Linked DNA regions of Homo sapiens: regions 1, 2 and 4 are each reported to be linked to region 3. The links are microRNA targets in miRTarBase. Many come from high-throughput screens and were not tested one by one. Region 3 holds a microRNA gene; each other region holds the end of a gene's coding sequence. Distances are from middle to middle.

What was found. Region 3 holds the annotated microRNA hsa-miR-4420 (GUCACUGAUGUCUGUAGCUGAG, at 1,560-1,581, shown strand). A microRNA usually pairs through its seed, bases 2 to 8, with sites in the 3' UTR of a target mRNA and lowers its output. Matches are read on the target gene's strand: a 7mer-m8 pairs with bases 2 to 8, a 7mer-A1 pairs with bases 2 to 7 and ends in A, and an 8mer does both.
Region 1: the mRNA of ZNF543 is a reported target of hsa-miR-4420. Seed matches in the 3' UTR shown: 7mer-A1 at 721-727.
Region 2: the mRNA of STYK1 is a reported target of hsa-miR-4420. Seed matches in the 3' UTR shown: 7mer-A1 at 2,069-2,075.
Region 4: miRTarBase lists ZNF644 as a target of hsa-miR-4420. Seed matches in the 3' UTR shown: 7mer-A1 at 1,913-1,919.

Annotation. Positions count from the first base shown.
Region 1 is chr19:57,328,771-57,331,940 of GRCh38, forward strand. ZNF543 (zinc finger protein 543) reads left to right here. Exons shown (of 4, transcript NM_213598.4): 4 at 1-2,000. The coding sequence ends at 495. Among named protein-coding and RNA genes, the nearest start is that of ZNF543, 9.9 kb to the left of the region's middle.
Region 2 is chr12:10,617,311-10,620,480 of GRCh38, forward strand. It overlaps STYK1 (serine/threonine/tyrosine kinase 1), which reads right to left. Exons shown (of 11, transcript NM_018423.3): 11 at 1,613-3,038. The coding sequence ends at 2,834. Among named protein-coding and RNA genes, the nearest start is that of MAGOHB, 5.3 kb to the left of the region's middle.
Region 3 is chr1:30,737,569-30,740,738 of GRCh38, reverse strand. MIR4420 (microRNA 4420) reads left to right here and starts at 1,507; the gene lies at 1,507-1,583. It overlaps LAPTM5 (lysosomal protein transmembrane 5), which reads left to right. Exons shown (of 8, transcript NM_006762.3): 4 at 802-930; 5 at 1,677-1,799; 6 at 3,040-3,135. RefSeq lists an enhancer at 970-1,529.
Region 4 is chr1:90,914,118-90,917,287 of GRCh38, reverse strand. It overlaps ZNF644 (zinc finger protein 644), which reads left to right. Exons shown (of 6, transcript NM_201269.3): 6 at 298-1,984. The coding sequence ends at 490. Among named protein-coding and RNA genes, the nearest start is that of LINC01763, 64 kb to the right of the region's middle.

The sequences.
Region 1 (3,170 bases), not on the chromosome of region 3:
ACTTTTGTCTTGCATAAAAGGACCCACACAGGAGAAAAACCCTATGAATGCAAAGAATGTGGAAAAGCCTTTAGTGATAGGGCAGACCTCATTCGCCACTTCAGCATCCACACTGGAGAGAAACCCTATGAGTGCGTGGAGTGTGGAAAGGCCTTCAACCGCAGCTCACACCTCACGAGGCACCAACAGATTCACACTGGAGAGAAACCCTATGAATGCATCCAGTGTGGGAAAGCCTTTTGCCGGAGCGCAAACCTTATTCGACACTCCATCATTCACACTGGAGAGAAGCCGTATGAATGCAGTGAGTGTGGAAAGGCTTTTAATCGCGGCTCATCCCTCACACATCATCAAAGGATTCATACTGGGAGAAACCCTACCATTGTAACAGATGTGGGAAGACCTTTTATGACTGCACAGACTTCAGTCAACATCCAGGAACTTTTATTAGGGAAAGAGTTTTTGAATATCACCACTGAAGAAAATCTGTGGTGAAAGGGAACATCTTACCATCTGGCCATTCACACTGAAGAGAAACTTCATAAGCATCCTCTCTTTGAGAAAACGTGTAATAGATGATCATTTGTCGTCTAAACAATCAAGTTAGAAATTGAACCAGCCTGGAGTCTTATTCTCCACCTGAGAATTCACCCATGAGAGAGACCCAGTGGTTGCTATGCACTTAGGAAAACTTTCAGCCACATCTTTCTTCTTAGTTTACAGTGAAATATTATCTCAGGGATATTTTTTTTTTTTTTTTGAGACGGAGTCTCGCTCTGTCGCCCAGGCTGGAGTGCAGTGGCGGGATCTCGGCTCACTGCAAGCTCCGCCTCCCGGGTTCACGCCATTCTCCTGCCTCAGCCTCCCAAGTAGCTGGGACTACAGGCACCCGCCACTACGCCTGGCTAATTTTTTGTATTTTTAGTAGAGACGGGGTTTCACCGTTTTAGCCGGGATGGTCTCGATCTCCTGACCTCGTGATCCGCCCGCCTCAGCCTCCCAAAGTGCTGGGATTACAGGCGTGAGCCACCGCGCCCGGCCATCTCAGGGATATTTAAACAAAGGAAGAGGAAATATAGGGAAGAGAAAGAAACCACAGCTTCTTTTAGACTTGTCTGACAAGCCTATGGCAATTTTGTCGTCCCTTTGTTATTTTATGTGGGAGAGGGAAATGTTTCAGAAACGAAAGATCTCATCCCCTTTATTTTTCTGTGTATGCATTCACTGCTGCCCAGTGTCAGAACAGTTATACAAACGAGGGCTTGAAAACATTTTGTGAAAACTTGCTTAGTCCTGCAACGTTCTCCACTCTCGAGGTGCAGAAGCATACATCTTTATAAAAAATATGGAGGCTTGAGTTATGAAACACTTTTATAAGGAGATAAGGATGTACATATGTTTGGACACATTGTCCACTTCAGATGCTTGTTTAAAAAAATGTTTCACCATGTGTCTTTACCCAATACACATACTTTTTCTTGATGTGGATTTACTTTTTTTTTTTTTTTTTAAGTTTTCCTGGGATAGGGATGATAGTGTAATTGTTCATGCCCACAGTAATCCTGGGAATCTTAGTTTTTTCCTATGATTGTGGTTTCTCAGCTTCTTTACCTCTCCTTTGAGTTAGGTCCACCTCAGTTTTCTAAAGGTCAAATTAAGGCCCCCCCAAAAATACAGTATGTAGCTGAATTCCTTTGAAAGATCATGATAAACTCAGAAGAACAAACATAGAAGGAATGTCATTTTTAATCTTTTTAAAGAGTGTGTGAAAATTCACTTTAACTGGAATTTTAACAGGCAAGCCGGCATGCATATATGTAGGGATGTGTGACTTTCACAGTTGTCACCATGGACTTAGGCTTGATTAAAATGCTACACATTTAGAGCGTTTTGTAATTCCTTTTTTATATTTTTAAGACTAGATTTTGAGCCATGTGATAGTTTTACCTCATATTAAATATATTGTACAGAAGTAAAAATAATCATGTATTCACTTTGAACTCCTCAAAGCCTTTTTTATTTATTTACTTATTTACTTACTTGGTTTAGGAGCAGAGGTTTAATAGGCAAAAGAAAGAGAAAAGAGACTAGCTCTCTTCTGAGAAGAGAGGGGTGTCCAAGTGGGACTTCCCTCCTCAGAGCCTTTTTTTTTTTTTTTTTTTTGGAGACAGAGTTTTGCTCTTGTTGCTCAGGCTGGAGTTCAGTGGCACAGTCTTGGCTCACTGCAACCTCTGCCTCCCGAGTTCAAGCGATTCTTCTTCAGCCTCCCAAGTAGCTGGGATTACAGGCATGCGCCACCACGCCCAGCTAATTTTGTATTTTTAATAGAGATGGGGTTTCTGCATGTTGGTCAGGCTGATCTCGAACTCCTGACAGGTGATCCACCTGCCTCGGCCTCCCAAAGTGCTGGGATTACAGGTGTGAGCCACTGCGCCCAGCGCTCACAGCCTTTTAGTGAACACTTGTATAGTTTTCTATTGTAGGCAAAGCCATTTTGTACTGCATTAATTCATGTCATTATTTTGAAGACATCTCTTGGTCCTTTTTTTTTTTTAATTGAGATGGAGTCTCGCTCTGTTGCCCAGGCTGGAGTGCAGTGGTGAGATCTCGGCTCACTGCAGCCGCCTCCACCTTCCGGGTTCAAGTGATTTTCCTGCCTCAGCCTCCCAAGTAGCTGGGACTACAGGTTTGTGCCACCACACCCAGCTAATTTTTGTATTTTTAGTAGAGATGGGGTTTCACCATGTTGGCCAGGATGGTCTTCATCTCTTAACCTTGTGATCTGCCTGGCTCAACCTTCCAAAGTGTTGGGATTACAGGCGTGGCCACTACGCCTGGCCCTCCTTGTCCTTTTTATGTCATGTCTAAGAACTCCTCACCAGGTTTTCTATCGTATTTCCTCCTACAAATTTTATCTTCTACATTGGATCTGATTCATGTTAAGTTAATTTTTGTATTACAGTATGAACTTTAGTTTCTTTTGTTGTTGCCCATGAATTTTTTTAAGCTCCATTTCTTGAAAAGACTATTCTGCCTCTATTGAATTGCTTTTACACCTTAGCAAAAAATTATTTAAGTATATTCATGTTGGTCTATTTCTTGGTTCTCTATGTTATTCCATTGGTCTTCGAGCCTAAACCTATGCCAATACCACTCTATTTTGATTACTA
Region 2 (3,170 bases), not on the chromosome of region 3:
ATTTGCTACTTATTTATTTCAGTAAGAGTGTTAAAGCAAAATTTAAAAAAATTATTGCAACAGAGTTAAGATTAAGAAATCTTAATTAACTGACTTTTTTTGTTTTAAAATGCTAAAAAAAAACCCACTACTATTATTTGATTTTAATAACAGAATACCTAAATCTGGCATAAAAAAACATAGTGTGCTCCATAAGCATAATTTAAGAACTACTGGTTCAGACTATTCTATTTTAAACGACGTTACCAAGTTTCCCTTAGACACTGTATCTAGGTGGGTGTTTGCGTTGTTCCTAAGTGTTGGAATTTTTTTTTAACAATAAAGCATAGATTGGAAAAACAAGACTGGAAGAGAAGGCAATCAAAACAATACAACAAAATCTATCTAGAGTCAACCCGATTAAATGATAAATATTTTGATTCTTTTTTTCATTCATTAGCTTGGAAACACCTAGTTTGGCTGAAAGGTCAATGATGCCAGAAATATCATCCTCCTTCTGGAAGAAGCCTGGCCAAGTGAGAGAAAGACCCAGTTTTCTTAGAGTAAAAATTACTGTATCCAGTTTTCCGGGCCGGAAAAACAAATAAAATTGGGGGTAAAAAACTTAAATATCAATTGTCTGCTTCTTTCCCTCCTACTAAAAGAAATATGACAGTACAACAAAGCAACCTTCCATTTCACTGTGTTCCACTTTCCCTTAGCTCACCGTGCTGCAACCCATATGCTTTCTTGCAGTTCCTTGCCTCAGAATTTTCACGCACACATGTCCTCCTCCTGGGAGACTCTTCTTATTCGGCCTGGGTTACTTACCCATCCCTAAGGTCTCAGTTTATAGCCCATTTCTGTTCAGGGAAGTGTTCCTTTTAAACTCCCTTCTACTACCCTATGCTTTTTCTTTATAGCACTTAACACTTCGCACTTAACAGATACCCACACAAATAAATGTATAATGTGTCTCACCTTCTAGACTGTAATCAAAAGCTCCCTATTTCTTTTATCCTACACCTAGCCAAGTGTCTGGCACAGCAAGCCTTAACACTCAATATTTTTCAGTGATCAGATAAATAAGTAAATATTTGTAATTTTGACTTAACTGAACAGCTGAGAGGCAACAATGGGATTCCATAGGACTTTGTAATTTTGTGTGAAGCCACTCTTCTGCCCTTCTCCCTACTGCAACTTGCTACCCATTTAAATCCTGACTAGTCATTGTGGTATTCTTACAGCGGCAAGAATCATTATTCCTTTAGCTGACTCATTATGATTCCATCAGGATTCCAACTTCTACAACATTTTTAGCTGCCAGTCATTTTTCTTATGGCAGCCTTAGATGTCCCTTCCAGGGTACCCAAAGTGTTTTTTAAAATTGCAGACTACCATGTTCAACAGAATTGCCCTCATGATGATGTTTTCAATATTTTGTAATAGTAGGAGTCCACTATCATCATCCAAAAGCGTACAAAAATGATGACTTCATCATTGCACATGTATAATATCACTACTTGTGCCATATCATCATCTTTAGGCATGTCCTGCCTTGCAGTGTTAGCGACTGAGTTTCTCTTCTTGGTCACAGTAGATTTTAAATGAAAAATATATGAAAGGTCCTGGGTTAGGAAGGGCAAAAGAAAAGGAGAAACACGTTTATTGAGCGCATATGTGCCAGATAGTGTACAAATACATACTCAAAACGTATCAATCCTCAGAACAACCTTGTGAAATAGGTATTATCCCCATTTACACATAAAGAATCCCTTTTCTGACATTGTACATTATCTCTTGAATTTTTCTATTGGCATTAACTTTCACTTATTTACTTTTATCCTCCCTATGATATTTTTAGTAGTTATAAACCAGAAAAGCATATTTCCATTTAATAAATATTAATTTAATAAAATAAGTTTCACAGTATATCAACAGATGATTGAAAATTAGAAGCTGCTATCCTTCCATATCAGATTACATTCTTTTCTAGCCCTTGTTAAAGACTGAGCTACTAAGCCTTCTTGCTTGGTTTCTACATTTCCTATTTATTGTGCACACACACACACACACACACAGAATTCTTTTCACTGTTCTAACATTGACTCTCTAGGCTTAGTCTCCTTAGTCTAATCGGAACTAGGAAGCTAGCTTAATGAACAATACATGTTGAATGTTCTTAATCATGAAATGACTCCTCCACCTTCTAATTAAACGTAGTAACAAACAGAATTTACCTGTCTCAGAATCAGATAAAAGGGGACCATCTTTCTTTTATCTATACCTAAGGTGAAACTCAGAGGTTTTTCCGTTATAGTTCTCCTCCAACCCCACATGTAGGGCTCAGGACTGAAGAACTTTGTGTCCTACCACCTTTTCTTGAAGGAGGTGTTGGTCCATATCTGTAATCCTGAGCAAGAAGAACCTTAAATTTTCTTTCCCTTCAACTCTTTTATTGGATTTCTATTCCTTCATTTCATTCCAAATTTTCATCTAGATAAAAATGTGGTTCCAGAGGAAACTAGCCTCGGACGGGAGGGATGAGCTTATTTGTGCCATGCCCCAACAAATACTGCAGAGTTCTAAAACCTCCTTTGCACAGGTCCACCACTTCTACCCAGGATTTCTAGGACTGGGACAGCAGAAGTGAGACTGACAGTATGTCTTAGCTCAGGATGTGTAGAGTCCCATCCAGCATCATTTCAGATTTCCCGAGAAATGTGTAAAGGAAGATCAAGAATCCATGTCCCATTTCTCCCTTTGTGTCCCTGGGAAAGACCATTCTCTGTTCTTAGAGGAATTGATTCCAAGAACATATACTCATGCATGAATGTTTCTTGCCCGAGACTCTTCAAAGCATGCTATAGTTGTAGAAGAGGCTCTCCACTCTGATGCCGGCCACAGCTGCATACAGTTCAGGTACCACCAACTCTGGTACTTGTAACACAGCCTCGTCATCTGCAGTTTTAATGGCAGCTTCTAGGCGCAAGCGCAGCTCTCTAGGTGAGGGGCGGTCAGCCTCACGCCAGCGCCAGCAGGACTTCATGATACTGTACCTGAGAGGGAAACAAGAGAAACTGACTTCCTTGACAAGGCAAATGTATGGGGAGCATGTCTCCTCTCCTCACAAACTTTAACAAACAACTCTGCAATTCTTTAATTGTCTTCTGTTTGCCCTGTTACTCATA
Region 3 (3,170 bases):
TGTGCAGAAACTCAAAGGGTTCAGCTAGAGAAATGGAGAAATGGAGCAGGTGGTCCCTGAAGACTCTGAGATCAGTCAAGATTGTTCTGGTTGCCTCCTGAGTGATTTTAGACGACCACATGAGACACCAGGAAACCACTGTTGCAGTGATTTTGTCCCCAGCTGTGAGAGCATATGAATGAATACTGGTCATGGTGGTCACTTGCTTTCAATTGAAGAAGAGGGACTTCAGCCTCTTCCTGGCAGGGCCTCTTACTGTGACTTTGGACCCCTGGGAGTGGCTGGTGGAGGAAGGTCCAATTGTATGCGGGGCGTGGTGGGGAGTGGGGGGTGGGGGGGAGGGGCTCTCTGCTGCCTCCGGGCCTTCACTCATGTTGGTCTTTCTGCCTCCAGTGCCCCGCCCCTCCCTCCTGTTCACTCCTAGTCTCCTTCCCCGATCTAGCCCTGGTGTCCCCACCTCCAGCAAGTCCTCTCTGGTCCCCTCTCCTCTGTAAAAAGTGCACAAAGCCCTTCCTTGCTGGGTTCTTGTGAGCAAATTGAGTCAAATCCTGCTCTTTGAGCCCTGATAGATGGGGATGGTTCCCTTACGTCTCCTGGGACACCAAGACTCCTCTCATTCAGGGCCTGGGTCTTATCCACTCCCTGTCCCCAGAGTGTCACTCAGAGGGAGGTGACCTCAACTGAGGAGGGCAGGGAAGGTTTGGGAGAGGGTGGGAAGGGGATGCATGAGGATATCAGGCTGGGTGGCGGAGTGTTGGCTGCATGCAGGGGACACTTGACGGTGCTGGGCCTACCTTTCAGAACCGGGAGAAGTACCTGCTGCCCTTCCTGTCCCTGCAAATCATGGACTATCTCCTGTGCCTGCTCACCCTGCTGGGCTCCTACATTGAGCTGCCCGCCTACCTCAAGTTGGCCTCCCGGAGCCGTGCTGTGAGTACCCAGCCCCCACCTCTCACCGGACAGCAGAGCCCAGGTCTGGCATGGGAGATGGGAGGGGACCAGACACGGGCCCTGTGCTCAGGCTGGGGAGGGTAGGAGCCCTCTTCCTGGCTGGTGTCTTGACCCAGTCTCTGAGTCCCTCCACATTGCCCCAAGTTTCTTCCTCTGTGGAATGTACCTGCAATCACATCTCATCAGCCTGCCTTATGAGGGTTACATGAGGAACACACACATTGGGGGTGCAGCCCATGGTCAGCACTCAGTCAGTGCTGCTGGGAGTGAATTGACACCTGAGGAAAGGACATGTGCGCTTTTTAGCCCCCAGCCCCCAGTATTATTTCTTCTTTGGAACCAAGTTGAAGAAAGGAAGAGAAGGATGATTCATGCCAGTGAGCGCCCACTGTGGGGTGGCTTGAGGGCTGCTGCCAGTCAAGGACACAGTCTCCCAAACCTGCTTTTCTCACTCTCCCCAACTGTTGTCCTTGAAGAGACCGGGGGGCTACATCATGGAAGGGCCCTGGCCCGGGAGTCTGGAGACCTTGGTTCTAGTCTTGGGTCTGCCACCAGCTCTTGGTATGAACATCTGTGTGTTCATGTCTCTCTGTGCACAGGGGACGAGAGTCACTGATGTCTGTAGCTGAGACGGTCTCTCAAGTGAGGGCCTACTATGTGCCGCTCAGTAACTGGGACTTTAATTGCTGCTCCTCATTCCTCCTCCTTGTATTTGTCCTCCCCAGAGCTCCTCCAAGTTCCCCCTGATGACGCTGCAGCTGCTGGACTTCTGCCTGAGCATCCTGACCCTCTGCAGCTCCTACATGGAAGTGCCCACCTATCTCAACTTCAAGTCCATGAACCACATGGTGAGTCTGGGGCAGGGAACCATGCCCATTTGCTGGCTGTGTGGCCTTGAACAGGTTACTTCACGTCTCTGTGTGTCTGTGGTTTAGGCCAGGTTCCCTGGAGTTGGAGCTTGGGAGGAAGATTCTTGTGCTGGTGATTTATTGAGGGAGCCCTCTCAGGAAGAAACTTGTCAGGAGTGAGGAAGGCAGGTTCGAGAAAAGGAGGAAGCCAAGCAAAGAAGCAAAGATGTGGCTGTAGGAGCAGCCCTGCATGATCCCAGAGAGGGCTTTGGCATGTGAATTGCAACACAGACATAATATCAGTTTTTATTGTTGTCTAATGAATTATCTCTAAGCATCATGGCTTAAAGCAATAAACATTTATTATTTCACACAGCTTCTGAGGATCAGGAGCTTGGGAGTGGCTTAGCTGGGTTCTTCTGACTCAGGGACTCTGGTGGGGCTGCACCAGAGATGGTACCTGGGGCTGTGGACAACTGAGGGCTTGATTAGATCTGAAGGATGAACTCCTGGTGGCTCACTCACAGGGCGTGGGCTCTTTGCCTAATTCCTCATCCTGTGGACTTGTAGTAGTGCTGCTTGAGTGCTCTCCTGACATGGCTGCTGGCTTCCCCTGCGGGAGTGATGTAAGAGATAAGCAAGGAGGAAAGGCAGTGTCTTTTAAGACTTCTATCACTTCTGCCACATTCTGTTAGTTAGAAGTGCGTTGCTAAGTCCAGCCCACACTCAAGGGGAGAGGAAATAAACACCACCTTTAGAAGGGAGGCGTCTCAAAGAATGTGTGGTAATATTTGCAAATGACCACAGAGGCAGTCTCACCTAGGGCGAGTTCCCCTGCATCAGTCATTGGTTTCAAGCTGCCCCTAGGGGAGGGAATGTAACCTCCCAGGTATTAGTGGATTAGGTGGTCCCTGTCAGCCAAAATGATCTTGTAGAGAAGAGCATAGGTGTGGCCCATGGGCAGCTGACACCTGCCAGCTGGGGATGGGCCGGTGCGCCAGCCTGGGAAGCAGATCTGGAGATAGTAGCCACTTGGCTTTTCTTGGTTTGCCCGTCAGTGGGATGGGGCTGAAGGTAGCACCTGCTTCCTAAGGCTGCTGTGGCGGTCGACCAAGGTGACGGCTGTGCCACGCTGTGCTCGTGTGTGTGTGGAGGGTGGGATCATTATTCCCGGATGTGTGGGTGCTGTTGGAATTCCTTATGTCCAGAGACATTGATGTGGCCCCCAAATCTGTTGCAGAATTACCTCCCCAGCCAGGAGGATATGCCTCATAACCAGTTCATCAAGATGATGATCATCTTTTCCATCGCCTTCATCACTGTCCTTATCTTCAAGGTGAGTGGATCCCTGCCCTGCGGCTCTGGGAGGGG
Region 4 (3,170 bases), 60 Mb from region 3:
AGAATGACATATTTTGGAGTAATAGTTGTTGTTTCAAGTGAATTAAGATGTGTAGATGTTAATTTTAAAATAATAATGCTCCCACCTATACAAAGATTACTGGAGTTTATTATAGCTGTTAATAAACATATGAATTGGGAGTTTTGATGTTTTATTAAATCATTTGACTTTAGAAACTTTATCAATTGCTGTCTTTAAAATATGATAAAGTTTATTCCTTATGTTTTAGGATTTTGTGTGAATTAGTTTTAAAGAAAGAGAATTGGTCATGTTAAGAGAATTGTTATCTTTCTGTAGGTTTTGTGGCCTAGTCTTTCGAGGACCCTTGTCTGTTCAGGAAGACTGGATTAAGCACTTACAACGACATATTGTAAACGCTAATCTTCCACGGACTGGAGCTGGCATGGTGGAAGTCACGTCACTACTTAAAAAGCCTGCCTCCATTACAGAAACTTCATTTTCTCTACTAATGGCCGAAGCAGCTTCATAGAACCAGGAAACCTTTTAAATAGCCAGTTTGAATTGGATGTAAATTTGAAATTCTTTTTTTTTAAGCCACATTAAATTATCTGTTTATAAATACTAAAGCAGGAAAATGGGGGGAAAGTGAATTACAGTGACATCAGAGCAAATTGAATACTTAAAACAGTAAGTAGTCTATATATTTTATATAGGGTGGAAGATGTGTTTTTAAGGTTTATGAAGTTTTGTTGGTTAACTGTGTTCACTCAGTAAAAGAGCAGTACATGTAAGCAGCCATTAATAAACTGTTGCACATGGATACTTATAGACAGACTTATTGGACAATTATGTTTTTTGCAGTGTTACCAGAATCAAGGCTCTGTTTATTCCCCACAAGACTTGCATAGAAAAATAAGATATTATATTTTGTTTGTATGTATTTAGTGTTTTGTATAATACCAAGAACCGCTGACTAAATTTACTCAAATTAGGGCATTAAATATCATGTACTTCATAGTTTGAGACTGTTCACTCAAATAGGGCAGAGTACTATTCTATCTAGATGTGTAAGTGTTTTTTTTAAAATCACATGGAACGGTTTTTTTTATACTAAAAAGTGGAGGGAGATTTGTTTAAACAAGTATTTCTAAAAGAAATATGTACATAGTTCTGGAAATTATTTGTGGTAAGGAAATATTCTTTACTCCAGTTGCATTTCTCAGACAATAAAGTGGTGCATCCATGCTACCTCCTACTTTGTCAACAAAGATGCTATTTACCCTTTACATTTTTGTATCATAATAGATTTTAAAAATCTAATGTTCTTTATTGCAAGACATTCTTTTGTTAACAGGTTTGTTTCTTTTTAATGTTTTACCTAAAATTTGACATGCTTACAGGACAGGTTTGCCTCTTACTTTATTTAACATTGTAGAAATGTAATTAATAAACAATGCTCACTACACAGTTTAGAATAGACGTTCTCATTTATATTATCTTCCAAATTTGATCAGTTAGCAAAACTTAATACACCAATTAAAATATTTCTACATATGAGAATGTTTACAATTTAAATTTTAGAACTTGTTTTGGATGTGATTATATGTACGAAAATCGTGTAACACTATGCTCATGCTAAGAACCGACATAACAGAATTACTGAAATAAATGTGCTGTGAGGAATGGAAAATATGGTGCAGGTGTCTTGGTCATGATAAATTGTGATTCTTTTTAAAAATTTTTTCCAAAAACAATTAGGTATTTTAATCTGAAATCAGATTCCTTTACAAACAACAAGTTTTTGTATGCAAGCACCATTTTATTTCATGTAGTATGGCTAATACTATAGTTGAACCAAGGATATGCATTGATTCTTTGCTTCGTATGTAAATAAAGTTAAAAACAGTTAAAATAAGGAGTATTTTGGTAGAGTATATACATACCTCACTGCCAGTGAAATTGCTTTCCTATGGTATATCTCCTTACCAGAAAAATCTCTAAATAAAAAAAGGTTTAAAGAAAATTAAAATGTGAAACATTTCTTATTTTTATCATTGGTGGTAATAGTTCACTTCAGGTTGTGTTTCATTGGATTTAAATTGTTTATCCTTGCCAGGTTACTTGGATCACAGAGCATAGTTTTTCTAGAATCACCTCATTGGTCAATATAATGTATGTGAGAAAAATCATTTTCCCCCTTTCATGATTAATCAAACCTCTAAATTCAGAGCCATCTTATATGCAAAATTAGAAGGTTGGACTAGTTGGATCATTCCCAACCAAGGGTCTCCTGATCCTTAGGTTAATAGATAAGGGAATAGTACTTGTAAGTTATTTTCAATTTTACAAAAGTCCCGATAAAAACTATGTATTTGTCTATAGTGACAAAACTAACTAAAACATCCCATTTCTTTACTTTTGACTGAAAATATACCAAGTCTGTATATATTGGTTATCTCTTACTGAACAAGTTTCGTTGATAGTTATATGTCTTTGAATATATATTTTTAAATTGGAAGACATACTACATAGCAAGTGGAGTCCAGAAGTAAAAACCAAACAAACAAACAAAAATCATAGGAATCTTGTGGGAAGGCTAGTAATCACTAGAGCCCCTTTCCACTCTAATTCTTTTTTTTTTTCTTTAAAGACAGAGTTTTACTCTGTCACCCAGGCTGGAGTGCAATGGTGTGATCATATCTCACTGCAGACTCAACCTCTCAGGACTCAAGTGATCCTCCCACTTCAGCCTCCCAAGTAGCTGGAATTAAAAGCACATGTCATCACTCTTGGCTAGTTTTTGTATTTTTCGTAGAGACAGAGTTTTACCATGTTGCCCAGGCTGTGCTTGAACTCCTGGGCTCAAGAGATCCTTCCGCCTCCGCCTCTCAAAGTGTTGAGATTACAGGCATGAGCCACCACACCTGGCCTCCTAATTCTTACACTTCTATGATTTTGTCTTATCAGGCCAAATATCAACATGTGTGAATACAAGTAGAAGAATTAGTTTGACCACAAGTTTCGGAATCAAAACTACATTTAATTTTAAAATATGTTGAACTATATGTAAACAATTATTTCTCCTTCTAGTTATATAAAGAATTCAGTCATCAGAATAAAATATTTCACATCAGAAACAGTAGACTAGAGTGACTCCTGAAAAGTAAATTAAGCAAAGAGCATTTTTCATAGTAAAGATATTTGGGTTA